Linked DNA regions of Homo sapiens. The protein of the gene in region 3 purifies or fractionates together with the protein of the main gene of each other region. This does not show direct contact. Each region holds a gene or a part of one and is shown on either strand. Other genes may lie near its edges.

Region 1 (7,068 bases), on a different chromosome or scaffold from region 3:
CCACAGAAATTAAGCTGTTGATAATGAAACCCACTAGTTACAGACTTGAGAAAAATCAGTTTTCTTTCCTCTCCATCATAGTAGACAATATCTGTATCAACAACTTTCAAGAAAAAGCCTGAGTTACTTCTGACTTCAAATATACATGTTATCATCAAAACCTATTTTCCTCTATTATCACTTATTCCAAATCTGTAGCTGCCTTTTCATTCCTTCAGCTACATCCTTGTTCCTGGCCCTAGACTTTTCCCCCTAGACTACTGTACCTCATTCTCATGAGACGGCTTCCCCTGACTGTCTTTAATTCCACTGTCAATGTTAATGTTACCTTCTCTCTAACATTTTACCTATGCCACCTACCCATTCCACTTCAGCTTTTCAAGGCCTTTACATTGCATTTTTATTTAGCTCAGAAGCCTCATCATCAACTATATATTTATTTATAAAGTGGCTGCTGACTTTCAACTCCCCTTAAAATTGACAGTTTCTTCTTGACCTAGTAAATGTATTAAATTCTCCCTTCAGGTAGTCACATTCTCTCCTAATCCATCTGAATACGGAATTTCTTTTGCAGTTAACCCCAAACTCATAGGTAATGTATTTAGAAAAGTTTTGCACAATAATTACATACAATGTTTCTTCATTTGTTTGCGTATCAATGTTATCCATATTAGACTGTAGGGACACCAGATAAGGGCTGCATCTTTCAAAGCAGTCTGTACAACACCTATCTGCTATGTCACTTCACAAAGGTAAGTTGATTCGTTAAATGAAACTATTATTTAATGGAAAGCTTAAGTAGAAAATGTTCATTTTAAAAATGTTTCTACGGTTTAACTTTTAAACATCTATGGCCTTTTTTATTTCCACAGACAACTGACATATTTTGGTTTCTCACTACTCTATTATTGTCAAAGAATGGCTGGAATTTAAAGTGCAAGTTGAGGGTAGATAAAAGATATACACTTTGACATCCCACCATCAGATTATTCGAAAATTGGCAATGTCAGCTCCAGGAATTCTGAAATACAACTGAATCTTCACATACCCAAACAGTTTCAGGACCAAAAGAAGAGAACAGCGCACCTTCTGATTTGGGGGTTCCCTTTTCTGCAACTGGTTTAGACTAGTTTCTCTATCCAAGGGTCTTTTAATTAGGAAAATTCAATTAATCACCATCGATATACGGAAAGAATACCAGGGAAAGGCAATCCTTTACTTAAAAGAGAAAAAAGGAGGCTTTGGATATCACCTTTTCATAAAATTCAGCAGCTAAATTAAGCTTTGCACTCAATATCTGCCGGCAGTCTCAGACATTTTTTTTCTACCTAATAATAAAAGCAAGTCTTATTCAATTTAGTCCCTTCTCGAGCACCGTCTCGACCTGTCAGAATTTGACAGTTAAAGAAAAAATTAAAAAAAGAAGTAAGGGAAACACTAGGATTCCCGTCCACACTGCTTCTTTTTCCGAAATCACATCACTGAGTCTTGGATTTCCTTCACTCCAAACTAAGCCCTCAGATTCCAAATATAGTTCTTTAACCCCCGTCTCGCCACTCAATTACACATAAACCTTGCCAATTACAGAACCACAGCAGAAACCCCTACAAATCCGCTTGCTGTTCATCTTGGAAGTCATGCCCTGCAGCAACTGCCGATCGCCGAAGTGACGGATATTAACCAAATTCAGCGCAACGGAATCAGACATGCAGAACACACACGGCTTTCGCGAGGGAGGGAAACGCGACCCGGGAAAAGTGCGCTCCTCACCAGCCTCGGGACGCTCTACCGGGGTGGGGGTTCCCAGAAAGGAGGGGGAGAGGAGCCCGAGTAGGGGAATCCTGCCCTCTCAAGTAAAAAGCTGGATCCCCGGCAGCAGGCTGCAGCCCGTCCTCGCTAAGGAAACGACGAGGCAGACAGAGGGCCTTTTGCGCGGAAAGGCAGAAGGCAGACACTTTCCGAGGTCCGGACGCAAGCCGATCCCCCATCCCCCGAGGGAGGCGAAGGGTGCCCCATGGGTGGCTGAGGGGACGCCCGGCCCGCGAGGGACAACCCGAGGAGGAGCAGTTTCATCTGATTAACACCTGAGTCTCGTCCAGGCAAGCACAGATACTGGCGTGGGGCCGCCCAGGTGGGGGGAAGGGAAGGAGAGGAAGGGGGTGGAGATGGGATTCCCCCCTCTCTCTGAAGAGCACTAGCGGAGGATGCGCCCAGGCCAGCCGAGAGCGGCATGCTTCAGACTGCGGAGCCGGGATCCCGCCGCCTGCACCGACAGCGCGGAGCCCCGCAGCGCCCTCCGCACCGGCCCCTCGGTCCCCGGGGGCCCAGGACTTTGCTTCCGAAGGCGCTGGGGCCTAACATCCCACGGGGTCGACCCCGGCTCCTGGGGCCTGGGGGAGGGGACCCGCGGGAACACCCCCAATCTCCGGCGGTTCTCAGCGGTTGTAAAATGCACCCCCGCGGTTCCCTTCTTCAGCCTTCCCTCCTCCCGAGGCCGCAGAGAAGGGCCACCACAGGCGAAAAGCCTAAGGCAATGCAGGGACAGCAGCCTCATAGGTCCCAGACCTCCTCCCCCGGTTACCTGTAAGGACTCCGACACGGATTTGATGGTCGTGGTTAGTAAGGATCATTCCCTCGGTCGCCATGTTTCCCAGCGCAGTCACCGCACTGACAGGAGCCGGGAGAAACCGGAGCCCGGAGCGCGCGGGCCGGGAGCGCGCTCGCCGAGGAGAGCGCGACAGCTAGGGAGCCAGAGAAGCGCGAGGAGAGCGGGGAAGGAGGGGGAGGCCACAGAGTGCACGGTGGCCTGCGTGGGGGAGAGGCCGCGCCGGGAGTGCGCGGGTCCGCGGGAGGGGAAGGAGTCAGGGCGCGCGGCCCCAAGTCCGGCAAGAAGGAGGCAAGCTTGGGGGGCGCGGTGGCCGCACGGGGAGAGCGCGCGGAGGCGGCAGAACGAGGCCGGAGAGTGTCGGAACGCTCTGCGGAGCGCGAGACCCAAGGCAGCTAGATGGCAGGACTGAGAGGAAAGGATAGCACACGCTCTGGAGGTTGCGGGGGCGGACTCGGGGACAAGGGCGGAGCTACACCCCTAGGCGTGGAACTCGTGGAGAGTGAGGGGAGGAGTGAGAGCTCGGGTGCTGAGTATTGGGAGCGGGAAGGAGCCGGCCCAGCCTGAGTAGGACCGCGGATCGCTCCTGGGCGCGCGAGTAGCACCGGATTGGCTGAGTGAACGCGGAGCGTGTGCGCGCGAGGCACGAACGCAACCTCGGCCGGGCCCCAGACAGAAGCAATCCCCTGCCGAGCCTGACACCTCGTTGGTTGTCCGCGCCTTAGGCTGGCTCTCGCCGGCGGGCCGGCTTTCTACGCGGGGGCAGCGAGGCTGGCTCAGCACCCCGGGCCTCCTCTTGCAACCCTCGGGAATGGCCGGCCGCCCCACTGAAAGCGCTGGGGAACCGAGAGGTGTCTTAGAAAGCTGCATGAGTGGCAGAACGGTGGCTACTATGACAGAGAGGCCGCCGTGGGCGAAGAGGGAGGTATCCTGTCCTGCCTCGTGCTAGCCGCTGGCTTCCTCAGTGGGCTCTCCCTGAAGGAGGATTTCCGCTTCACCTATGCTTTAGGATTCCATCTCCAGTCAGTGCCTGCAAGACGATCCTCACGTGCGAAACTGAGGAGTCTGAGGCAGGGCAGCTGGAGTGGAGATACCTGGCTTCTCTTCCTCCTGCTGTCCCACGGTTTTGTGGCCTTAAGCCTCTTCGCCATGAGCGCTGCTTTTAGATGAAAAGCATCAATCTCCTTAGCGAACGAGAACGTGTTCCACCTGAACCACAGTCCATTGCCGCGGCGATTTTCATTTCAGTATTCGTGGGATGTGAGATTACCATGAAAGTAGCTTTTGTTGCCATTTATTTCCATGTGCCTTTCATGAAACGTGTTATTAATCACCTGTGGCTATTCTACGTTAGTTTCTTACTATCGTTCTGGACCTTTCAACTTCTGAATTTTAAAAAGTTATATGCGTGTGTGTGTGTGTACACACACTCATATGTATATGTTTTCTCTTCTTAGCTGTAGTAACCTGGAGGCATAAAAGTGAAAAGCAAAGTATTAAAAGATGTATATCAGTGTTTATACACAAATTTCAAAGTCACTTTGATAGGTTTTTTTTTGGTTTTGGTTTTGGTTTTTTTTGATCCGGAGTCTCGCTCTGTCGCCAGGCTCCAGTGCAGTGGCGCGATCTCGGCTCACTTGCAACCTCTGCCTCCCAGGTTCAAGCGATTCTCCTGCGTCAGCCTCCCGAGTAGCTGGAACTACAGGCGCGTGCCACGACACCCAGCTAATTTTTGTATTATTAGTAGAGACGGGGTTTCACCATGTTGGCCAGGATAGTCTCGATCAAGATCTTGACCTCGTGACCCGCCCGCCTTGGCCTCCCAAAGTGCTGGGATTACAGGTGTGAGCCACCGTGCCTGGCCGATTATGAGTTTTTTATTGTTCCGTTGGAACATGAAATTACCCATCCTCTGAAGATTCACGTGCTTATGTATTTCATTTTAAATAATGGGGCCTAAAAGTAGATGATGGATGGAATTGAAGTGGGTAAAATAAATTAATGGCTTTTTTGCTTTTGTTTTTGTTTTTAGTATGTGTATTGCTGGTATTTTTGACAGTAATTAAAAATTTAAGCCAGGTCATGAACTCATTCCCTATCATTGTCACCTTAGATCCTGGTGGCCAACGGGTTGTTAACTAGTTTGAAATGAGAGATAAAGATAAGAAAGTATGTCCAAGAGAATGATTTCCGTTATCTCAAACTAAACATGAAGAGCAAATAGTTGGTTATATTGTTATCTTCCTAACCTATCTCTATTCTCTGCAACACACTCTAAATGATTAGAAAATATCTTGAGCTTATCGTCTGTCTTACATCTATCTTAGACGTAAGGTCTAAACCTGCCCACTAACAGGTTGTGACCCTAAACAAATTTGGGCCTTTTCCTTCATCCTTTAAATAAGATGGTAGACTAAATAAGTACCTTTTAAGTATAGTGGTAGACTAAATAAGCACTCCTTTAATTAGAATATTCTGTAATTATTCATGGAAGAAAACTGGCACTTTATTTCACAAATCAATAATAAGAGGACAAGAGACTAACTTTCTGCATTCATAAAAGGGGTGATGGTTAAATTCATTAAAATTTAAGTGGGAAGGGTGGATATGAATTAAATTTTCTAAAGCAGCAGTCCCCAACATTTTTGGCACCAGGGATCTGTTTTGTGGAAGACAATTTTTCCATGGATGGAGATGGGGAGGGTTGATGGTTTCGGGATGAAGCTGTTCTAGAAAACTGCAGATCATAAGGTATTAGATTCTGATAAGAAGCCACAACCTAAATCCCACGCATCCGCAGTTCACAATAGGGTTCATGCTCCTATGACAATCTAATGCAGCCACTGATCTGACAGGAGGCGGAGCTCAGGCAGTAATGGTTACTGCCTGCTGTGTGGCCTGGTTCCTAATAGGCCACAGATGGGTACCTGTCCATGGCCCAGAGTTTGGGGACCCCTGTTCTAAAGTATATGGAGGTTTATTAACATTCATTATGTTTTACTGACTGTAAGTATTAAAATTCCTAAAAAATAATAATGGAACTAAATTATAATGCTTGTCTTTCAACCGTTTTTCTTAAGTGTATTCATCTTTCTCAAATTCAGCAACCTTTTACAAACCTTACAAAGGAAAAACGCAGTGACTTTACTGTCTAGAGTGAACTTTTACTGATGGTTATTGAATGAATATTATAATATGTACACACTATTACTCTTGTTACAGTGTGACATTCTTCAGAATTCATCCTGGAATCAATATTATGCCAAAGAAAATTTTCTGAAAGGTAGGAGAGAGTGCCATTTTCCAAATATTGATAAATGTCTCAGGAAACATGGGACATGGGGTGTGGTGTGGGTTGGGGTGGGAATTTGTATGTAAATAATTAGAAGTGCCCAGGGAGTTATTCTTTCCATTCTTAGGGTTTTCATCATGAAAACTACAAGAGTTGCCATTAACCATCCAAGACAACATAAAAAAAATAGGTTAACATGTGGCTTTCATTACAATTATCATGGAATGAAACTTTATATTTCAGTAGAAATGAAGTTATTATTATTATTATTATTTTTTGAGACAGTCTTGCTGTGTCAGCCAGGCTGGAATGCAGTGGCACCATCTCAGTTCACTGCAACTTCTGTCTCCTGGGCTCAAGTAATTCTCCTGCCTCAGCCTCCCGAGTAGCTGGGATTACAGGTGTGTGCCACTATGCCTTGCTAATTTTCGTATTTTTAGTAGAGATGGGATTTCACCATGTTGGCCAGCCTGGTCTTGAACTCCTGACCTCAGGTAATCCACCTGCCTCGGCCTCCCAAAGTGCTGGGATTACAGGCGTGAGCCACTGTGACCGGCCTGAAGTTAGTTTTTTCCTAGTACTGGTATATTTACACTTAGCCCACCAGTTAACTCTTAGTTTTTCTGTGGTTAATCACAATTTCTTTTTTTTCTTTTTTTTTTTTTTTTTTTTTGAGACGGAGTCTCTCTCTGTTACCCAGGCCGGACTGCCGTGGCACTATCTCGGCTCACTGCAAGCTCCGCCTTCCGGGTTCACACCATTCTCCTGCCTCAGCCTCCAGAGTAGCTGTGACTACAGGCGCCCGCCACCATGCCTGGCTAATTTTTTGTATTTTTAATAGAGACGGGGTTTCACTATGTTAGCCAAGATGGTCTCGATCTCCTGACCTTGTGATCCACCTGCCTGAACCTCCCAAAGTGCTGGGATTACAGGCATGAGCCACCGCGCCTGGCCCACAATTTCAGTATAAGCAAGGCCAAATCTCATTGGGCTTTTCTGGGTCCAGACTCTCCTCTATGTCTTTTCCTACATGTGCATACCTATGATAAAGTTTAATTATATAGTAGTCACCGTAAGAGATTGACAGAAATAACTGATAATAAAATAGTACAATTATAACAATTTACTGTAATAAAAGTTATGTTAATGTGGGCTCTGTCTCTCAAAATAT
Region 2 (7,029 bases), on a different chromosome or scaffold from region 3:
GCCCCAGAGGCTAAGGGGGGAGCCCCTGTTGTGCGTGTCCCTCTCGGTACATCTGAGTGTCAGTGGGCTGGTCGTGGGGCGCAGGGGTGTAGCAGCCCCTAGCGAGAGGGGCAACGCCTGTTCTCGGACCACAGAGGATGCGCTCCAGGCACCCTTGATCCTTCCAGAGCCCACGCAAAAGATGGGCTGAAAGCAACACACTCAGCGTCAGTTCAGACAACAACCCCAAGCAGCCAGATGTGACTCCCAGAAACGAGCCCCCAGGATGCCACAGCAGCAGCAAAACCCACCTGGGGCAGCCCCCAACTCCTGCCCACGCAGGGCAGCCCCCAACCCCTGCCCACCTGGGTGCCCAGGCCCCCACCTCCTTCCTGGTGCGGCCGGCCTCCCACGCCTGCCTCTCCAGCTCCAGCTGCTGCTTCAGGGTATTCAGCTCCATCTGGGGGGCGGACATAAGAGGCCAGTCAGTCCCACCCCGTGCAGCCCCCTGGCCAGGCCCAGCACAGCCCTCCGGTGGTAGACCTGGTGCCGGCGCTCCTGCTCCTCCCTGCCCTTCTCAAACTCAGCCCTCAGGGCTCGGGTCAGTGCAGAGCTGCTCTCCTCCAGCTGCTGCCTCAGCTCTTCCAGCTCCGCCCGCTGCCTGCGGCCAGGGAGGAGTCAGCAGGTGAGGGGTCATCGAGTAAGGAGTCAGGGATGGGAGAGGTCAGCGGGTGAGGGGGCGGGGGGGAGGGGTCAGCCAGCGAGGGGTCCCTGGGAGAGGGCGTGGTGCCCCCGGGCGGCACCTGGCTGCCTGCTGGCCCAGCCGCTCCCTCTCCTCAGCCACCTCACTGTACAGCCGCTGCCGTTGCTGCTGCAGCGCCCACTGCTCCTGCTCCAGGTGCTGCTGGAACCTGCGGGACGGTCAGGACTGGCTCTCGGGGGCCGGGACGGGCGGTCCCAGGACCCACCCACCGCAGGGGCACGGGCCGACCACAGGCCTGACTCACAGCTGGAGAGCAGCCCTCCGGGGCCCTGCCCCTCCCCCTCGGCAGTCAAGGCCCCTCAAAGCCACCGCCCGGGGGCAGGCAAGGCCACGAGGAACTTGCCCATCAGCCAAGCGCAGCAATTCCCTGAGCTCCAGGCCCTCGTGGCACTTTGGGAAGTGGCTGTGGAGCCGCGTCCAGGCCCCCTTTTCCCTCAGCCCGTGTGCCGGCCTCACCCTGTTCAGCATTGCCCCACGGGCATGGAGGGCGGGAGGCAGGTGCCTCGTGGGGCCTTATCCACCTCCCCTGCCTCCGGCCTGAGGGTGCCAGGTGCCTGGCTCCGTGACCTGAGCAAGCTCGCGCCAGGGCCTCGTCCTGACCCCACCTTCGAGGAGAGACTGGGGGACCAGCCAAGCTGCATCTGGGGAGGACCAGCCACGACAGGCAACAGGGTGGATAGGAGAGGGTGGCTTCCAGGCTGTCCTGGTGGCGCAGACAGTGCAGGAGGGGCTGCCACTGCCCCCTGTGGCCCGCAGATCCTGACCACCACTGGGCACGTCCCCAGCCCCCAGGGCTCAGGACGCAAGAGCAGCAGTCACCCCTCAGACCCCAGGCCAAGGGAGTGAATGAGAGAGACCGTCCCTGGGCCCCAAGGTCAGAGCTGGAGGGGCCTCGAGGCCGCCTATCCACGGGTTGCTGCTCTGGGGCCAGTTGTGAAAGAGTGGATGTCTGGTGGGGGTTCCCAGCCCTGACCCTGGGAAAACACCCGTGCACCCATGCAGAACCTGCAGACCTCGGCGGGCATGAACTGCAGACACAAGCCCGAGGACACTGGCCCGGCTGAGGCTGGGCCCCCAAGGGCCACTCCAGGGCCAAGGGCCCTGCGTCCTCCCTGCATGCTGCACTAAGACCCTCGCCCACCTCTACATGGGAACTCCACTCCAGCCTTCGAGGATTCCGACTCCCCGCCCTGAGGGTCCTGGCCCCACCGGCCTGGGGCCACCACCCACCGCTGCCGAGCACGTTCGCGCTCCTGCTGGCCCAGCGCCTCCTTCTCCCGCTCCAGCTGCTCCCGCAGCTCCTCGGCCTGGCGCAGGCAGCGCTGCGAGGCCCGCTCATCCGACTGCAGCAGCTCCGCCTCGTGCAGGCTCTTGAGCCTCCGCACTTCCTGCTTGTGCCTTGCAATCAGCTTCTGGATCTCGGGCTCCAGACCTGGGGGCGGGGCACCAGCTAGGGCCACGTCCAGCTAGGGTGGGCCCGGGAAGTCCAACCCTGGCACAAGACCAGCCTGTCTCAGGCCCAGAGGGGACCCCGCCCACCCAGGGCCTCCTTGGATCCAACCCGAAGCACAGCTGAGTCTTGACGCCCACGAGGTGGGGAAGAGACCCCCACAGGGCCACGGCGCCTCTCCCAGCCTGTGGGGCTCAGGGCTCCTGACACTCCTGGTGCTACCACTGACGGCTCCCAGGCACCCTGGCAGGTGTCCAGAGCGAGAGGACCAGGCCTCGGGGAGCCCTGCACATCACCCAAGGGTCCGAGGCCCCTTCAGACCACAACACCCACCAGCCTCCTGCCCCATCCGCCTGCCTGCCCCTGCCTCCTCCTGTGGCTCACTCTGCTTCCCGTGGCAGGGCCCACGTGCCACAGTCGTCCACAAACTCCCAATCTCCCCTAGCCCAACCCTGAGGAAGTGAGGCACTGAGCCCCCTCGTTTCAGGCAACTGCCTAGATGCTGGGGGCTGGGCCAGGCTCCTGTGTGGAGCCCACCTGCCCCCCGGGTCACGGCAGAAGCCGCAGCGGAGGCCGTGACGGGGGTGGTTGGGGCATGAGTGTTCACCTCTGCCCAGGAAGGTCTCGGACTACATGAATGCCTGAAGTTATGGCTCTCTCAAAAGAAGCCCTGGCCGCAGCACCCACCCCACACCTGGCCGGCTCATGGGAGGGGAGGGCCCACCTCGGACAGTGACCTCCTTGATCTTCTTGGTTTTCTCACTGATCCACTTCTCCCGGCGGGCTTTCTCGGTGGCGCTCATTAATTCTTTGAGTTTTTTAATCTCCTACGAGCAGAACAGGGCAGGAGGAAACGACACGAAGGACACCCCCGTCCCTTTGCCACCCTGTGGGCACAGTCAGGGCCGGGCTTCCAGGTCCACCAGCACAAGGCCGGCACTCATGGTTGGGTGTGCTGCCCCGAGACAGAGCCACTGCTGCCCTCCCCAGCGCCCGGGGCCAGGCTGGAGGCCCAGGCCCACCCTGCCACACACCTTGGTGGCCTGAGACATGGGAGGGCAGCCATCAGCCTGCAGAGGCCTTGCCCCAGAGAGGGGTGCTGCTGCCTGTCGGGACGGCCCCAGAGCCTGCATTCTTCCATGGGACTGGCAGTCCTCAACCCCGGCTGTCAGCCACAGTCACGTGCAGGGATTTTAAAATGCCAGTGCCAAGCCCCACTCCAGAACCTGGGCTCGGGACCATCACTGCCCAAGCTGGTGGGAAGCATAGCCAGGGAGGCTGAGGCCCCCAGGGAGCTCACACAGCGGGAAGGGGCGGGGAGTCAATGCTCCACCGACACCTGGTCAGTAGAGAGAGCAGGTCCCATGGCCCAAGGACCTGGCAGTGGGGCAGACCAGGCAGAGGCTCCTGGGTCCACGGCTACCGTGCTGTGGCCGGGCAGGGACTGTGCGTCCACATCTGTGACAGCAGGCCCACGGCCCCGCCCCAGAGCCTGGCAGCTAGAGAGGCAGGAGTGGACCAGCTCGGTGCCACGGTGCTCCCCCAGACAGCCCCACCCACCGCTGTGGCCCTGACACACCGAGACAGGAATGAGGACTCCAAGTCCGGTCCTGTTCTGGGGGCTGTGCCAGCTGAGCCTGGCCTGTGAGCCGGGCTTGGGACGCCGTGCAGTAGGGAGCAAAGCCTCACCAGCTCGTGCTGCGCCTGTGCCTGGGCCACACGCTCGGTGCATCTCTGGTCCTCCTGCTTCAGCTCGGCCACCACAGCCTCGCACTTTTCACTCAGGACCTTCTTGTCCTCAATCAGCTGTGTTGGGGACCGGAGGTGAGGTGCTACACCAAGGCCCCAGCCCAGCAGGACCCCTGATGGAGGAGACCCTCCCAGCCTCCGAGGGAGGCTAACAGCAGCCCTCCCCTGGGGCTGCCCCTCCTAGGTTTGTGGATGGACCCTGGGGCCAGTGGGGGGGCACGTGTGCAAACACGGGCCCAGGCCTGCATCCGCCGTCCTGTCCTCAGCTGGGGGACCCGGCGAATGTCAGAGAAGCCCCAGCCCACCCCCTGCAGTGATGTCAGGGTCTTCCTGGGATGAGGGTAGCTCTGCCGAGGCCATCACCCAGCCCTGGAGGAGGCTCACTGTCTGCCAAAGGGTGTCAGGACCACACCAGCCTCACTGCCGGCCCCAGGCCAGACCCCAGGTCAGGACACACCTGTGACAACTATCAAGCAGCCCTGGAGGCCCCTATTCTCACACACCCCAGACCAACTCTAGGTCTCTTCTCTTCAGAACAGGAGCCAACCGGGGCTGCGACTGAGCTGAGGGGCCGGCAGGACACCCCACTACACTCACACGGGGCGGCTCTGGATAAAGACAGGAGTGCCCTCTCCAGGGCATGCATGGCTGGGAATGGCATGGGAAAGGCTTGGAATGCGTCCAGCGGACACCCGTGTGACACCCAACAGAGGAAGAAGCTCCCTGGCAGTGGGAAGCCCCTGGCTCTGGAAGTCTCCATGAGCCACGCGCTGGGTCCGGGCCTCTGCGCTCCCCGGGCCGCTCACCTGGTCAATGAAGGCCAAGTGCCGCTGGATGGTGGCCTCGTAGTGCTCCCTCTGCCGCTGCAGCTGCCGGCTCAGCGCCTTCTCTGTCTCCTTGACCCGCCGGGCCGTGAGGTCTCGCTGCTGCGCCTGCAGGGTGTGGGCAGAGGAGGGAAGCGCTAGGACCGGTGGGCCTGGCCTCAGCAGGTAGGAGGCTAGCAGGGCCCGGGATTAGCAGTGCCAGCAGCGTTACCAGCGCTCTCTGCAGCAGCAGCATGGCCTGCTTCTTCTCCTCCACCTCCAGCTTCAGCCGCATCACAGACGTGCTCACCTCGGACCCCAGCTCCAGGGGCCCCGGCCCCGCCTCCGGCACCCACCCCTGCAGACACAGCCGAGCGTCAGGCGGAAGCGGCAGAGGACGGGGGGCAGCCAAGGACCTGACACGATGCCCCTGCGGCCCTGCCCTCTGGGGACAGAGGGGCTGCTGCACACGGGAGCCCGTGGGAAGCCGGAGGGCAGGTGGCAGGCGGCCCAGCAGAGGTCGTTTTCATTGCTCAGTACAGGAAATGGGGGCCGTGGCCTCAGGAATAAAAAACAAACCATTTAAAAAGTTCTATGCTGCCCAGCTTCCTGCCCTGTGACAATAAAGTTCACGTCACTGCTCCATTTAGCCTGGCCGCTAGTGTTCACCCAGGACAAACCAACCCAGAGGACAGCAGGGCTCCAGAGGGCTGAACTATCCACACATATGGGCTCGTGGAGGCAGCTCGGGGCAGCGGGTAGGTGGGGGCAGTATGGGGAATGCGGGCCCTGCCACCTCCACCCTGAGAGACCCGTGGGGGGTGCTGCATAACTAGGTGGGTACATGGTGAGGGACCACCTCCTGCTGGGGGCCGGGTGGGGGCTGGCGAGAGACCTCCTCCCCCTGGGGGCCAGGTGCGGGCTGGTGAGGGGCCTCCTCCCCCGAGGGCCAGGTGCAGGCTCGTGAGGGGCCTCCTCCCACTGGGGGCCGGGTGCGGGCTGGTGAGGGGCCACCTCCTGCTGGGAGTCCAGCTGGTCCTGCCCAGACTTCTCCATCTCGTCCAAGAAGCTCATGATGCTTTGTAGCTTGGCCTCCGATAGCAGCGTCCCATCCTCAGGAGGTTCGGGGAACGCACTGAGTTTTCCAAATTTCTCCAAGTTGTCAGCTGTCAGAGAGCTGGCGTCATCCTCCTGTGGGACAGGAGCCCAGCATCGGGGGCTGTCAGGGCAGCCTGAGGACTTGGGTTCCCCAAAGGCAGAGGTGGCAGCTGAGGCTGGGCTCTGGGAGGGAGGGTTGTGACTAAAGCCAGGAGGAGCCTGTGGCATCCCCATTTTCCCAACCCCCACAGCCACCGCATGCTCTGTGTGAATGGCGTGGGTGGACAGACTGTGCAGGGCGGGCGCACACCGTGGTCACCTCGCTGGCCCAGGCGTATCTGCCCCTGTGATGGGTCCTGGGGCGGGGCAGCACGTCCGGCTCCTTCTCCAGCAGCTGCAGTGTGTGCAGCAGCTCCTCCAGTGGCCCCCTGGACTTGGCGCTCCCCCTGCTCGGGGCCATCATCTCCAGGTTGTCCCCAGCTGCATCCTGGGCAAGAACGTCCTGCAAAAGAGCAGGGAGACAGATGCAGCAAGGCTGCTGGTAGCTGAGAGCAGCCCCCACATAGGAGGCCAACCGCAGAGCCCCAAAGGCGCCGCGGGAGCTCCCCAGTCCCGACATTCAGCCCCAGGAAGGTGAGGCCAGGGCTCAGACCTTCCCACCCGGTCTCTGCAGCTGCTCAAACCCAGAGCAGCTCCAGCCACCAGGGGACTCCTCCCAGTGCCCCACTCCAGGAAAACAGGAGTGCAGCCACCTGGCCCCACCATTGAGCAGCCTGGGAGCCTTGGCTGTCAGGTCACCCCTCAGAGCCGGAAGCTCCTCTTTTGTGGATGAGGATGCAAGGCCCCCCACCCCAGGACATCTGCAAAAACCCAACTGGATCCACCCCAGCAAAGGCTCCCCAAGAGGCAGCCAGCACCATGCATCAGAGCAAGAAGACACCTCCTGGGTGGCCTCTCTGAGCTTAAGTGGCCCCTAGAGCAGAGGAGGGGCTGGGAGAAGCTCAGCTCAGGACACCCCTGGCACAGACATGGCCCTTAAAGCCAAAAACCATGATGGAGTGAAGGACAGCTGTGCTCAGACCTGCGTCCTGTCCTCTGGAGGCTGCTGTGGTTCTGGGGATGAGTCGGAGGTGGGCAGGCAGCGGTCTCCGGGGCCTGCAGCAGGGAGGCCACCACCTGCACAGCAG
Region 3 (7,580 bases):
TTGAACCCGGGAGGCGGAGGTTTTGGTGAGCCAAGATCGTGCCACTGCACTCCAGCCTGGAGATAGAGCGAGACTCCGTCTCAAAAAACAAATAAACAAACAAACAAAAACAAAAATTAGTTGGGCATGGTGGCACGTGCCTGTAATCCCAGCTACTCAGGAGGCTAAGGCAGGAGAATTGCTTAACCCAGAACCGGGAGGCAGAGGTTGCAGTGAGCCGAGATCACACCACTGCACTCCAGCCTGGGCTAGAGCGAGACTCTGTCTCAAAAAAAAAAAAAAAAAAAAAAAGAAAAGAAAAAAAAACAGCTAACAGTGTTGGCTCGGAGCTGGAGTGTACCTGGGCTTTAACCTTGGCTCTGCCACGTATTTATCATGTGCTCAGAGACAAGTGACCTAAACTGACTTTACTCAATTTCGTGTCTATAAAATGGGAATAATAATAGGACCCCTCCCATAGGGTTATGAGAACTAAACACATTAATGAATAGCATGCCTAATGAAGTTGTATTATTCTCATTTTATAGATAAAGAAACTGAGACATATAGATTAACCAACTTGCCCAAGATCATTTAGTAGCAGAGTCAAATTCGGTCTATAGAAATCAAAAGTTCATGCTTTTCACTATTGTTACATTGTTTCCAGTATTAGCTGATTCGTTTGTCCATTAATTGGATATTAGCATTTAAATAAAAAGTTGATAAGGAAAAAATAAAAATAAAACATTTTCCTTTGTAAAATTTTCTTCTGGGGGTGCTGGGGAGTAAATTAGCTACAAAATCAATTACAAGGAGAATGATTAAATATAAAGAGTTAAAAACAGGAATATAATTTCCAAGTGCTCTTTTCCAAATATTATCGCTGCAAGGTTTGAACAGGAGAAAGCCAGTAGAGATAAGAAAAATCAAAACTGAATAAACTTGATGTTAAATCAGCTTCTATTTCTTCTTGTCTTTCCTCCCATTTTCTCCAGTTGCCATGCTACTCCTGAGGATCTAGGATAATACTGAAAGAAGCACATATGGGGCACAAGATTTCTAGCACTTTAAAGCTTAATGCTTTAAAAGTATGTTTTGAGGCTTCTTTAAAAGTTTATGGATCTTGCCCAGAGCTGGAGTCGGAGCCCCCGAGGCTGCCGCCGAGAGTGCCCGCGAGCCCGTGGCCCAGCCGAAGCTCTTTCCCGCCGCCTCTCCGCGCCTCGTCCCCGTCCAGCCCCACCCAACCCCCAACCCAGCCTGGTCCCCTGACCCTCAGTCTGGCCCGGTCTGGCCTCCCAGCAGGGTCACGCAACTGCCCCGGGGACGATGAAAGGAGGATAAATGGTGCCCAAGGTGGACAGCGGTGCCTTCCTGCTGCTCTTCCTGCTCTTGCTGTCACTGAGCCGTTGCGGCCAGTGGGGACCCTCTGCTGAGACAGGCTCTGTGTCCAGCACCTGCTCCGGGTCACGCTCTGGGGGAGTAGGAGTCGCACGACTGTCTCAGCCTTGGATTTGACTTTGGCCTCATCCACCTAGGGGCCACGGGAGAACCATGTGGGTTACCAAGTTCAAGGGGAGAGAGAAGAAGCTGATGAAAATAGAGGCTCATCTGGGACTGCCTTCCTTCTCTGGCTCCACCCTTGACTTCTTCAGAGCTTGGGCTTTAAGCCGTGAGCTCCATCTCATTCCCTGGGCCGCAAGAAGCTCACTGGGCCCGCGTCTCTGGAGGCTGTTGGGGGGGCCCTTCCTCTGTCTCCATAGTCGACGGCTTGCTGGGGAAACCCAGGATCTCCGACTGCCTGGACATTTGCATTGCTGTCCCCTCGGGTTTTGTCTCAGGCTGTGCCTGGGGCTGTGCCTCTCCCTCAGGCTCCAGCTTGGTGGCAGACTTCTTGTCAGAGCCAGGTTCGGGGGTCCACAAGGGTTCAGTTCCCCGGGAACTCTCCCCCTCCTTGTTGATGGCCACAGAGGGAGATCCCCGTGCCTTGGGCTGCATCCAGCAGTGGCTGAGGATCTCGTCGATGTGGAGCCGCCGGTTGACGTCGGGCTGCAGCATGTGGTAGATGAGGTCCTTGCACTCGCCTGTCAGGTGCTTGGAGCGTGGGAAGTTGACGCGGTGCTCCTTCTGGATACGCAGCATCTTCTTGATGTTGGAGTCGTCGTAGGGCATGGAGCCGCAGACCATGATGTAGAGGATCACGCCTAGGCTCCAGATGTCGTACACCTTGGGCTGGTAGGGAATGCCCTGCAGCACCTCTGGGGCCGCATACGCTGGTGACCCACAGAAGGTCTTGCTTAATGCCATTCGACCACTGTCATCCCGCAGGCAGCGCTTGGAGAAGCTGAAGTCGGACAGCTTGATGTTGAAGTCCTTGTCAAGGAGAAGGTTGTCACACTTGAGGTCCCGGTGGACGACGTCCAGGTCGTGGCAGTACTTGATGGCCAAGGAAAGCTGGTGGAACTTCTTGCGAGCTTCGTCCTCATGCAGGGCTCCCCGGGTTTTGATTAACTCGAGGAGGTCGCCCTGGACCGCGAGCTCCATGACGATGTAGACCTTGCCATGTGATGTCTCAAAGATCTCGTAGGTCTTAATGATGGAGCAGTGGTTTAACATGGCCAGAATCTCAATTTCCCGGGGAAGGAATTTCTCCAAGAAGTCTGCGGGGGCCTTCTTGCGGTCGATGATCTTGATCGCCACATTGAACTTCAGGCGCTCAGAGTAAGCAGATTTTACTTTTGCATAGGAGCCCTCTCCTAAATTTATCCCCAGGAGGTAGCCTCGTCGCTTGAGGACAGCAGCGTCATCCATGGTGCCAGGAATGCCCAGTGCCTCTGAGGCTGCCCTCTACAGCCCCGAGGCGCATGGGCCAGCAGTGTGCTCATTTACATCCTGGATAGAGAGTCCTTTGGGCTGGCCAGGCCTGCTGTTCCTGCCTCCTAGAGGCCAAGACTCTGGAGTGGAACATTTGGCACTGTCTCCCAGATGACTTCAGCGAGTGAAGTCACAAAGGAGGAGTGCCCTGGGGGAATGAGACCCTGGCCTGAGGCACTTGGACTTGGAATCCTGGAAGGCTGGCCAGTAGGCTGGAGCAGACAAGATGAGCAGAAAGTGGCCTCGTGTCTTGCTGGGACCTGAGGTAGAAGGGGACTGTGTGGGACACATGGGCCTGCCCATGCTTCCAAACCCAGAGCCAGGCATACTTGTGCAGAATTGAGGCCAATTCTTGCAAACCAGGGCATCTGAGGAGGATTTAATAAAGGGACAATTAATAAAGGTGGGAGCAGAGTGTAGGGAACCCTGAGGGTCACACAATTACCCCAAGATAGTAGCAGACCCCTGGCCTGCATAGAAAAGGGTGGGAATGGTCCCTGGAACCCAGAAAGAGTAGTGTAGACAGGACCACCTTGAGAGAGGCAGTGGCCTTCAGGGGAGAAAAAGCCAGCCTCAGTGACCCTACAGGCTGGCAGGGGATGGGAGGAAGTCCCATCCCTGACTTCTTTTTCTCCCCTTCAGCCCTTGATGCTGTCCACACAGGTGACCCTCAGGAGTGCAGAGCAGGGCCAAGAAGAGTGGTGTGTCAAGAAGGTAGACAGCTTCCTGGCCCCGGAGTCACGCAGTTTGAGATGCCTGGATTCTGCCGCCTCCCTATACATCTCTTCCCTTGTCTGAGCCTTTGCTGGCTTCTTACAGCAGCTCTGTAGGAGGACAGCTGGCAGGAGTTCTGCTCTTGGCTGTGAGCTCCCTCCTGGGGACCTGCCCAGCTCACGGCCCTGGCTGGGCTCCCAGGGCATATCTGGGGCTGGGGGCTGAAGGTGGGGCCTGGATGCCACCCTGAGCACTGGCAGCTGCTCTGAGGACATTACAAGCAGCAGGGGAAGCACTGGACAGCAACCATCATTTCTTCTGGCAGTGGAGCCTCTGCTGTGACTGGTTCTGTGTCCAGCACCTGCTCTGGGCCACACCGTCAGGAAGAAGGAGTTGCATGACTGTCCTAGCCTTGGATTTGACTTTGGCCTCATCCACCTAGAGGGAGTGAGAACTCCTTCCTCACATGAGCCAGGTGGAACCCTGGGCCCTTCAGGAGTGAGTTAGTAGAGCTGGATGTCGCTCAGGCTGGGTTGGGTCACCACCAGCTGTGGCCCTTCTCCCTTTTCTCTGCTCCTTCACCTTGTTCCCCAACTCTGACTGCCCACTGCCAGTCCTTTGTGCGTGGTTGGTGCTCCTTCCTCCAGACAGCCTCCTTCTCCTTCCTGCTGGGGAAACCCCAAGTGCTGTCTCTTGGAAACCAAAAATAAAATTCTAATCTCCCCAGCCATCTGAATGGACCCCTCTTCTCAGCCAAGGCCATTCCAAAATTAATCTGAAAAACTAGTTCAGGCCATGATAGAAAGTAGGGGTCAGGCAGGCCTCATCATCCCTCCTCCCTTCAGGTTTCAGGCACAGCTGAGCAGCAGTAACATCGACACAGAGACCTGAAGACTGACAACAGACTCTGGCAGTAAGATACAGCAGGCTCTGAAAGAAACTGAAGTATTTTACTATCAAACAGATTTCTTTGACATATTTTGAAATAGCTCTGCAAAGCTGTCTCTTATGAGGAAAATCTACATTCTGTGAAGAATCCCCTTCCCTTTCTAGCTCTTTTCTCCTGAGATAATTAACTAGAGTCTGATAAGAAACATTTAACAGTGTGTTTTTTCTGAAGCCTGATACCTGGAGGCTTCATCTGCCTAAGAACCTTGGTCTCTACAACCTCTTACCCCAGAGACAGTCCCTTCTATTGATTCCAGGTCTTTAGATAAACTCTCTGAGCCAATTGCCAATCAGAAAATCTTTGAATCCACATGACCCAGAAGCCCGCCTCCCACTTTCAAGTTGTCCCTCCTTTTCTGACTGAACCAATGTATACCTTACATACACTGATTGATGTCTCGTGCCTCCCTAAAATGTATAAAACCAAGTTGCAGCCCTATCCCTTTGGGCACTTGTTGTCAGGATCTTCTGGGGCTGTCCTGGGCCATTAGTCACATATTGGCTCAGAAGAAATCTCTTCAAAAAAAAAAAAAGTTTATCTATATTGCTGTCTACAATGAAAAATATCCAATGTTATGTTTACTCTTTGTAATTAAATGCTAAAAAATTTATTTTGGTCCCAATGCTGTTTTCTTTATTGAGTTATCCTACAAAGGCAATAGGGAAAGATAAGCAGAGGCAAATGCAAGAGAGAGCAGGGAAGACAGCTTCTTGCAAATTGGGCTTTCTCATTTGTGTGTCCCCTGGCTGCCCTCAGCACAGAGCTTTACACACAGTCATAAACACTGGCTGAGTGATCATCGCAAAGAAAGGGAGAGAAAAAAAATTCATTTTCCTCCATTGCTCCTTTACCCCTGTTATGTTCTATGTCTTCCAAGGATAAAGACAATGAGGTATGAGGTATTCACTCAAAATGATAATTACCTTGGGATTATGTAGAAATATTGTATCTAAAATCCTAAACTGACAGGATCATTTATTTGCATTTTACAAAAATCTGGGCAACAGATGATACACATACACTCACACATAGACATACAAAACACCTGGAGATGAAGGAGAAATAGTGCTGCACTTGAATTATTTCTATTTTGGCTCAAAATTCCCTGAGATATATTTCTAAAATCTACTCGGCAGTTTCTCCCACCCCCTTTTTGTCTTTTGATTCTTTAGATGCTTTAAATTCAAAAGGCTCCTTATCTATATCCCAGATAGTTGAGTTATTTGAAAGCCCTGACCAAGGCATTTTATTATGGATTTGGTTGCTCTTGGGTAGAGTGAATAGGTAAATATATGCTGTACAGGGAATTTTGGCAGGAGTGGTAAAGGGCTCCAGCTCCCTGCTTCACATCTCAGGTCTGCTCCTTCAGTGCCATGTGGGATTCTCTTTGGATACCATCCCATAGGTTGGGAAGGCATCCTAAAATCGATGCTGAAGTTGTCAGTATCACCAGTCTATGGGACCTAGTGAAAGAGCAAGCAGAACTCTGAGAATCTGGGAAGAAAAGCAGTTTTCTAATGCAAAATGCATGAGAGGAGAGCCAATCCTTGGTCCTAGGGCTCTGACAACTCATTTTGTGACCTTAGGCAAGTGACCTGTGTTTCTTTCCCCTAACTTTCCTTATTTTTGGGTTGTGGGGGGAGTCTTTAACTAGAAATTGTTAAGGTCCTATAGAATGACACCTAACTTTTTTTATTCTATATCTAAAGACATGTTATCAAGGGTTCCATCTGCCGTACGGTGAGTTGTAGGAGCTGAGGCAATTAAGAGCATCAGACACGGGGCAGATAAATCTGGTTTTAAATCCCAGGGGCCACATCTTATTAGTACAGTGTGACTCTCGGAAAGTAACTTGATCTGTAAAATAGATGAAGTTATCTAATTTACCTAGTTATCTTACAGAGGCAATAGGAAAAGTATATAAGGAAAAAAGGTATGCAAAATAGGTATGCACTTTAAAGTGATTGTGAGGATTAGACATGGTGATTCCTGGTATATCACCTCTTATGACATCATAATGGTCTAAAGCAGAGGCATTCTACTCCATTGGGCCCAAGTTATGTACAAAATAATATTCAGTATAATATAGATCTATTATACCTTAGAATATCCCAGACGGGATCCTGTAAACTATTTTCTAGTATCTGTTAAATACTTTTCTTAACACTACTAAGCACTACAGGGAAGCTAAAAACACTACGACATGGCATCACCTTCTAAAAATTTGTTATTTAGTTGAAGAAACCACTAGAATATAGATATGAATGTCATAATATATAAAATATGAAACTTAAGTAGATTTTTTAAAGTACTGATTTTGCAGTAAATTGCCTAAGCTTATGGGAGAGAAAAAAAATCAGAGGGCTGGGGTTGCCCAGGAAGGTGTTAGAGCTTCCTTGGGCAGGATCCCCTGGCTGGGAGGTCACCCAGGATACGGTGTTGAGGCAGTGTCTTCTAAGAGCACAGTTCCTGAAACCAAAGGACACCAGGAACATAACAATGCAGGGTCAAAGTCTGAGCTAAGGAAACAAATTTTGAAAACCAGGTTGAAAATTCCAAGAGATCAGACAGAAATGTTTCCATGGTTTAATTTGGAAAAGGTATAAGGAGCCTGGGTTGCTGACCAGTTAGGCAGGCCAAAGCTGGAGTGTCGGGGAGCAAGTCTGGTGGTAAACAGCAGGCTCAGAGTGAAGTGCCAGTCAAGTCCTAGACCTGGTTGTGGAAGCATGCTGAGTACATTTCAAGTGGCTCACAAAGGACAATTGGAGGGTTTCACAGAGGTGATGAGACACACGAGGCCTTGAAGCAAAGGTAGATGTACATAGGTGATACAGGAAAGGGAAATGGCATTTGAACAAAACACAGAGAAATGAATGAATATGGCCAAGAACAAACCTTTATTAGATGACAAATGCCTTGGAAAAGATAGAGATGAATATAACATGGTCAGTACCCTCAGAAGGTCTCTCAGTGTCCTAGCCTACCTCACAACTTGAAGCACTAGGAAGCAAAATCCAATGGCCAGTCGTAAGTTTTCTGCTAGAGACTCATGTCACTGAAGATAGCT
Region 4 (6,960 bases), on a different chromosome or scaffold from region 3:
CCCAGCTACCTGGGAGGCTGAGGCAGGAGAATGGCATGAACCCGGTAGGCAGAGCTTGCAGTGAGCTGAGATCGCGCCACTGCACTCCAGCCTGGGCGACAGCCTGAGACTCCATCTCAGAAAAAAAAAAAAAAAATCCACCTCCATGATTTAAAGAAAACCAGCAAACAGTAAAATTTCTTTTCTCAGGCTTACATTAGAGCTTACAGAGCTGCAATCCCTTGGAAGTGGGGAGGTGCCTTAATACAAAAATTTAAAGGCCAACATATTCACTTTTCTTTCTTCTTCCGATTATTTTGTTCATTCCCCATTACCCTGAATGAAATATCTATGGTCTATTCTTTCAAAATGACTACTCTGGGCAGGACGCGGTGGCTCACATCAGTAATCCCAGCACTTTGGGAGTCCGAGGCAGGCAGATCACCTGAGGTCAGGACTTTGAGACCAGCCTGACCAACATGGTGAAACCTTGCCTCTACTAAAAATATAAAAATTATCCAGGCGTGGTGGCTGGTGTCTGTAGTCCCAGCTACTCAGGAAGCTGAGGCACAAGAATCGCTTGAACCCAGGAAGCTGAGGTCGCAGTGAGCGGAGATCATGCCACTGCACTCCAGCCTAGGCAACAGAGCCAGACTCCGTCTCAAAACAAAACAAAACAAAAGACTACCCTGATCCCATCCAAATTTTTTATCTCCCTGATTATGAAATTCTCTTTCGTCTACACTGTCATCCTGTCTGCCTTCAATGATTCAAATGTTCTTCTAAAGAACCAGATTGCCATTTATGAACTCCTTTTTAAGGAGGGAGTCATGGTGGCCAAGAAGGATGTCCACATGCCTAAGCACCCAGAGCTGGCAGACAAGAACGTGCCCAACCTTCATGTCATGAAGGCCATGCAGTCTCTCAAGTCTCAAGGCTACATGAAGGAACAGTTTGCCTGGAGACATTTCTACTGGTACCTTACCAATGAGGGTATCCAGTATCTCCGGGATTACCTTCATCTGCCCCCCGGAGACTGTACCTGCTACCCTACGCCATAGCTGTCCAGAGACCGGCAGGCCTCAGCCTAAAGGTCTGGAGGGTGAGTGACCTGCGAGACTCACAAGAGGGGAAGCTGACAGACATACCTACAGATGGAGTGCTGACAGACATACCTACAGATGGAGTGCTGTGCCACTTAGTGCCGACAAGAAAGCTGAGGCTGGGGCTGGGTCAGCAGCCAAATTCCAGTTGAGACGGATTTGGTCGTGGACGTGGTCAGCCACCTCAGTAAAATTGGAGAGGATTCTTTTGCATTGAATAAACTTACAACCAAAAAAAAAAAAACAACAGTTCTTCTAAGTAGACTTATAAATCCAAAAAACCTTATTTCTATTTCAGGAGTTTTTTTGTTTTGTTTTGTTTTTTGAGACGGAGTCTCGCTCTGTTGCCAGGCTGGAGTGCAGTGGCGTGATCTTGGCTCACTGCAATATCCACCTCCCGGGCTCAAGTGATTCTCTTGCCTCAGCCTCCCAAGTAGCTGGGATTACAGGCATGGGCCACCACACCCAACTAATTTTTGTATTTTTAGTAGAGATGGGGTTTCACCATGTTGGCCAGGATGGTCTCGATCTCTTGACCTCAATGATCCGCCCGCCTCGGCCTCCCAAATTATTTCAGGAGTTCTTAATCTTTTTGTGCACGGACCTCATTGGCAGTTTGGTGAAGCCTATGGTCCCTTTCTCAGATTTCTTTTAAGTGCATAATTAAATACATGTGATTACAAGGGAAACCAATTATATGGAAATATTAGCAAAACAACAAACTAATATGGTCATAATATATGTACAGCCTTATTATCACATTAAATAACAATGTCTAACGGCGGGTCTAGTAACACCAGAAATTCAAAGAAGTGTTAACCATAAATGATATTCTGAGCTATCTGCAACTGTAAACATGATGCAAAAATATCCGTAATTTTTATTGATCACAAAGTCATAGGCGCTGCTAATGCTACTCTGGCTTGTTGTCCACATTCGTAACTGAAGGAAATAATAAGTTTCAGTTAGCAGTCAATAAAAATAATGATGTCATTTTATCCTCCTTCTAGTGAAAGGACCCTTCTAATTCTATCCATCAATGAACTCCAGTTTAAAACCCCTCTCTAGTTCAAAGTCCTGCTCAGAACTGATTTTCGTCATAAATTTAAAAATAAAAACACTGATTCCTCCTTTGACCTAGTTCTCATCTGAACCTATCACTATGTCTCCCTGTTTTTATGCACATTTATACACAGAACCCTGGGTGTACTTCTGTGGTTTGCCTAGCCAGCACTCACTACAATTTTGCCAGTCAATAAAAGGTGAAGTTAAAAGAAAAGGGATGGAAACAACCAACAGCTCCCTCACTTTCAGACCTCCGACAGCAAGTGGAAAGATGCCAAGTACAGTGAGTGTCTGTGTTAGGTGGGCTGCCCCCAGACCCGTGTGTCCAGCTTGTCAAGCTTCCCTGCAGCACGATATCTTTATCAGCGACACTCAGAAGACATTCCATTTCGTTCTCGCCTCCTATACTCAGTTCCCTACCTGCCGGGCCTCTCGTCTCTGGCCCCCACCCGAGGCCGCCCCGCGGTCCTCCTGTCCCTTCCCATCCCATCCCCCACGCGTCTCTCCCTCTCCTCAGCCCCAGGCCGCCCTGGCTCCTGCGCGCCGCCACATCTCTCCCCTGGGTCTAACCCAGTGTCCCCCGACCCCCACCTCGCCCGACACTGACGGGAAGAGCCCAGGACCCCGGGGTCAGTTGGACCTGACGGCCGGGCAGTCAGAGACAGGCTGCGGCCCTAGGCCGGAGCAACCCGGCCGCGAGGCAGGGAGCCGCTCACAGCCCGCGGACTAAATCGGGACGCGTACTCACCAAGGGGGTCATGCGGGGGAGGACACGGAGGACTCTGTCGGACCGCCACTCGGCCTCGGAGCCGTCGCCCTAGCCGGTGACTGCCCCCGCCGCCGCTGCCGCCACCTTCGCCACTCGCCTGTTGGCTTCCCTGCGTCCTGCAGCGGCGCTGCCGCCACGCCAGCGCGCGTGCGCAGCGCCGCGGGGGCCTCTGGGAGCTGTAGTTCCGCCCGGGCGGCTAGGGGCTCCCACTTCCGCCTTAGGCAGCCCTAGGTCAGCTGCCCCCTGAGGCTGTCGTGGGTGTCCGGGTCCGGAATCGTCTTCCGGAAGGCTGTTCACCAGGCCTGGGCCCTGGTTTCCGCCTGCAGTAATGCTGGACGTGAAGAATCCGACTGAGCAAGTATGTGTAAAGCAAAAATGTAGAGCGTTTTATGCTTTCTGTGACAACGCTCAGTTGCCCAGGACACATTATTCGCATGAATGACTCTCTCTCTTCTCTGTTTCTCTCTCACACGTACGCACACACTACTTACAAACCTCCCTTCCCTTTTTTTTTTTTTTTCGAGACGGAGTCTGGCTCTGTCGCCCAGGCTGGAGTGCAGTGGCTCAATCTCGGCTCACTGCAAGCTCCGCCTCCCGGGTTCACGCCATTCTCCCGCCTCAGCCTCCCAAGTAGCTGGAACTACAAGCGCCCGCCACCACGCCCGGCTAATTTTTTGATTTTTAGTAGAGACGAGGTTTCACCGTGTTAGCCAGGATGGTCTCGATCTCCTGACCTCGTGATCCGCCCGCCTCGGCCTCCCAAAGTGCTGGGATTACAGGCGTGAGCCACCGCTGCCGGCCCCTCCCTTCCCTTTTGTTCTAAGTGCCATTAATTGGTTTGGATGGTATCTGGATTTTCAGTGTAAAACCTGCCTTCCCACTTCTCAGTTTCTAAAATCTTGCTTATCATAAACTTCACCATGCAGTTATTTTAGGTAAGTCAATAAATGAACTGTCTAATAATTTTTGTAACACCATAACTCATATATTCAGAGGTCAAGTTAGCTGAGTTGAACAGTCTAGAAACCTTAAAATTGGAAGATACCTGCTTAAAGGTCACTAGTGCAACTGTTGCCCAGGCAGGAATTCCCTCCTGTACATTCAGCCAGATGGTCATCTTCCTGTTCAACAGTTCAAATTTCAGGGAGCTCACTCCCTCAAGTAATGCAGCCTGCTCCACTGTTGGACAGCTCTAAATGTTAGAAAGTTCTGCCTCCTGCTGAGCTGAAATCTGTTTCCCTTTATTTCCTTCCATTGCTGGTAGTTAGGCTGCCTGGAGCAATACAGAATGTCTTCCACTTGACAGATCTTCAAAAAATTGAGAACAATGATTATATCCTCCAATACTGGGAGTCTCCAGGCAAAAAAAGGAAAAAAGTAATAATCATTTCCCCAGCTATTTCAAATGTCAATCAACTCCCAAACTGCTTTCTATCTACTCACCTCTCTTGATGTCACCTTTAGGGGCATGGTGGCATATGCCTATAATCCTAGCACTTTGCGAGGCCAAGGCAGGAGGATTGCTTGAGCCCAGAAGTTCAAGACCAGCCTGAGCAACATAGTGAAACCCCAACTCTACAAAAAATACAAAAATCAGCGAGGCATGGTGGCTTGCACCTGTAGTCCCAGCTACTAGGGAGGCTGAAGTGGGAGGATCACCAAGCCCAAAAAGGTCAAGGCTGCAGTGAGCTGTGATCATGCCACTGAACTCCATCCTGGGCAGCAGAGTGAAACCTGTCTCAAAACAAAACAGCAACAACAACATTGACAGAATTGCTTCATATTTATTGCCTTGTTTTATGACTACATAGGTAGTAATAGAACCACCTATGGTAGGCTGGTCAGATGTTATTGCTATCGTGCTGCCATTCAACTCATTCAGGAATTCAATCAGCTCTGTTACAAGACATTACTCAATGCACCGCTGGCATGAAATAAGCAAGAGGAGGCCGGGCGCAGTGGCTCACGCCTGTAATCCCAGCACTTTGGGAGGCCGAGGTGGGCGGATCATGAGGTCAGGAGATCGAGACCATCCTGGCTAACACGGTAGAAACCTGTCTCTACTAAAAATACAAAAAATTAGCCGGGCATGGTGGCAGGCGCCTGTAGTCCCAGCTACACGGGAGGCTGAGGCAGGAGAATGGCGTGAACCCGGGAGACGGAGCTTGCAGTGAGTGGAGATCGTGCCACTGCACTCCAGCCTGGGCGACAGAGCGAGACTCTGTCTCAAGAAAAAAAAAAAAAGAAAAGAAATAAGCAAGAGGATACAATTTACAATCTAGGGTAGGATGAAACTGCCACAGATTAAGGATCATCATAATAAGCCAAGGTACAAAGCATTCTGAGATTCTCAGAGAGAATGGCCTTTTCAAGTTGAGGGTTCATGACCTTATGGAAGAGGTGACAGTTAGGAGTTACTGGATGGCTGGATTTCAAGACAAGAGATGGCATTCGTGGACTGCTAAGGAAGAACTCAGCCTTAGCAAAACCACATTCACAGTGGGCTCTGGAACACTGCGTCTGGGTAGGCTGGAGCACCCAGGCCAGGGAGGAAGGGAAGGAGAGGCCCCAAAAGTTGCAAAAGAATCTTCAGGGAAGCTGCATTGCATGTGAGAAGTAAAAAAGGAACTAGAATGGTCAGTTAATCTTCTGAGCCCTGTTCTGTCACCTACAAATGAAGAACTTGAACTAACAAGCAATTTTCTTTTTTTTTTCCAGTCAGCACACTCAAGGAATTCAAATCTCCTGCTAGAACTATGGATCACTACAACAGTGATTCTTGGGAAATATGGAATAGGTATTATTTTCATCCCTTTTACAAATGGGAAAGTAAACTCAAGAGGTGAAAATTTGCTCAAAATCAATAAGTAGTACTCACTGAGGGCAGATCACTGTCTCCCTAGAACCTGGCATACTGCCTAGAATGTAATGTTTGTTTTTTGTTTTTTAAATGAATGGATGAATACACAGTAAACTCTGTCCAAAGCCCCTTTCTTTCCATACACAACTCAGTCTTCCCTGACATAGAAGGATATGAAGTTACTTGTTCATGGTCACAAAATTCATACTGGACCTTGTGTAGAGTTTAGTTCTTCAGCCTCCCAACTCCATACTCTATTAAACTACTCTGCCTTAGAATCGCAAAACATTTTTTTTAATGTTCTTTTTCCTTCTATGTGTACACAGCCAGTCTTAGAAGTAAGCCAAGAAAGCAGATGCTATGGCCAAGTGATTTAAGGGGCCTCTGGCAAGTATTTCTGGACAAAAAAACACTTTATCCCCAGGTCCCTCAAAGGCCCCCAAACTTCATCACTTATATTGAATCACAAATGTTAACTTGAGGTGAAAATTTAAACCAACACATAGTCCCTGAGGGCGCAGACTCCATCTTATTCACCACTGGGCGTACTGCCTAGAATGTAATAATTTGTCTACATTTTTATTTTAGAAATAGGTCTTGCTATGTTGCCCAGGCTAGAATGCAGTAACTATTCACAGGTGCTATCGTGAGGGCTCAAGGGATCCTCATGCCTCAGCTTCCTGAGTACCTGGGACCACAGGCTTGCACCGCTGTGCTGGGCTCGCCTGTTTGTTTTTTGTTTTGTTTTGTTTTGTTTTGTTTGAGATGGAGTCTCACTCTGTTGCCCAGGCTGGAGTGCAGTGGAATGATCTCAACTCACTGCAACCTCCACCTCCTGGGATCAAGCAGTTCTCATGCCTAATCCTCAGCTGGGATTACAGGTGCACGCCACCATGCCTGGCTAATTTTTCTTTTTCTTTTTCTTTTTTGAGACAGAGTTTCGCTCTTATTGCCCAGGCTGGAGTACAATGGCACGATCTCGGCTTACCACAACCTCCGCCTCCCAGGTTCAAGCAATTCTCATGCCTCAGCCTCCCGAACAGCTGGGATTACAGTTCGGGCCACCATGCCCGGCTAATTTTTTTTTTTTTTTTTATGGAGTTTCGCTCTTGTTGCCCAGGCTGGAGTGCCATGGCGCGATATCAGCTCACCATAACCTCCGCCTCCCAGGTTCAAGTGATTCT

The links.
Region 1: the proteins of TSSK1B (region 3) and GPHN purify together in Homo sapiens (affinity purification with mass spectrometry; 4 studies listed by BioGRID and IntAct, with this or other methods). This does not show direct contact.
Region 2: the proteins of TSSK1B (region 3) and CEP131 purify together in Homo sapiens (affinity purification with mass spectrometry; 3 studies listed by BioGRID and IntAct, with this or other methods). This does not show direct contact.
Region 4: the proteins of TSSK1B (region 3) and GAPVD1 purify together in Homo sapiens (affinity purification with mass spectrometry; 3 studies listed by BioGRID and IntAct, with this or other methods). This does not show direct contact.

Annotation. Positions count from the first base shown.
Region 1 is NC_000014.9:66,504,105-66,511,172, reverse strand, and holds the start of GPHN (gephyrin), read right to left. Parts: upstream 3,027-7,068; 5' UTR 2,646-3,026; coding exon 2,582-2,645; intron 1-2,581. UniProt on the Homo sapiens protein: Microtubule-associated protein involved in membrane protein-cytoskeleton interactions. It is thought to anchor the inhibitory glycine receptor (GLYR) to subsynaptic microtubules.
Region 2 is NC_000017.11:81,191,954-81,198,982, forward strand, and holds part of CEP131 (centrosomal protein of 131 kDa), read right to left. Parts: intron 7,019-7,029; coding exon 6,924-7,018; intron 6,345-6,923; coding exon 6,162-6,344; coding exon of another isoform or gene 6,153-6,161; intron 5,936-6,152; coding exon 5,759-5,935; intron 5,103-5,758; coding exon 4,977-5,102; intron 4,874-4,976; coding exon 4,748-4,873; intron 3,999-4,747; coding exon 3,882-3,998; intron 3,020-3,881; coding exon 2,917-3,019; intron 2,175-2,916; coding exon 1,973-2,174; intron 891-1,972; coding exon 783-890; intron 641-782; coding exon 523-640; intron 440-522; coding exon 365-439; intron 1-364. UniProt on the Homo sapiens protein: Component of centriolar satellites contributing to the building of a complex and dynamic network required to regulate cilia/flagellum formation.
Region 3 is NC_000005.10:113,432,053-113,439,632, forward strand, and holds TSSK1B (testis-specific serine/threonine-protein kinase 1), read right to left. Parts: upstream 2,938-7,580; 5' UTR 2,788-2,937; coding exon 1,684-2,787; 3' UTR 501-1,683; downstream 1-500. UniProt on the Homo sapiens protein: Testis-specific serine/threonine-protein kinase required during spermatid development. Phosphorylates 'Ser-288' of TSKS. Involved in the late stages of spermatogenesis, during the reconstruction of the cytoplasm.
Region 4 is NC_000009.12:125,257,895-125,264,854, reverse strand, and holds the start of GAPVD1 (GTPase-activating protein and VPS9 domain-containing protein 1), read right to left. Parts: upstream 3,030-6,960; 5' UTR 2,896-3,029; exon of another isoform or gene 2,895-2,895; intron 1,320-2,894; exon of another isoform or gene 754-1,319; intron 1-753. UniProt on the Homo sapiens protein: Acts both as a GTPase-activating protein (GAP) and a guanine nucleotide exchange factor (GEF), and participates in various processes such as endocytosis, insulin receptor internalization or LC2A4/GLUT4 trafficking.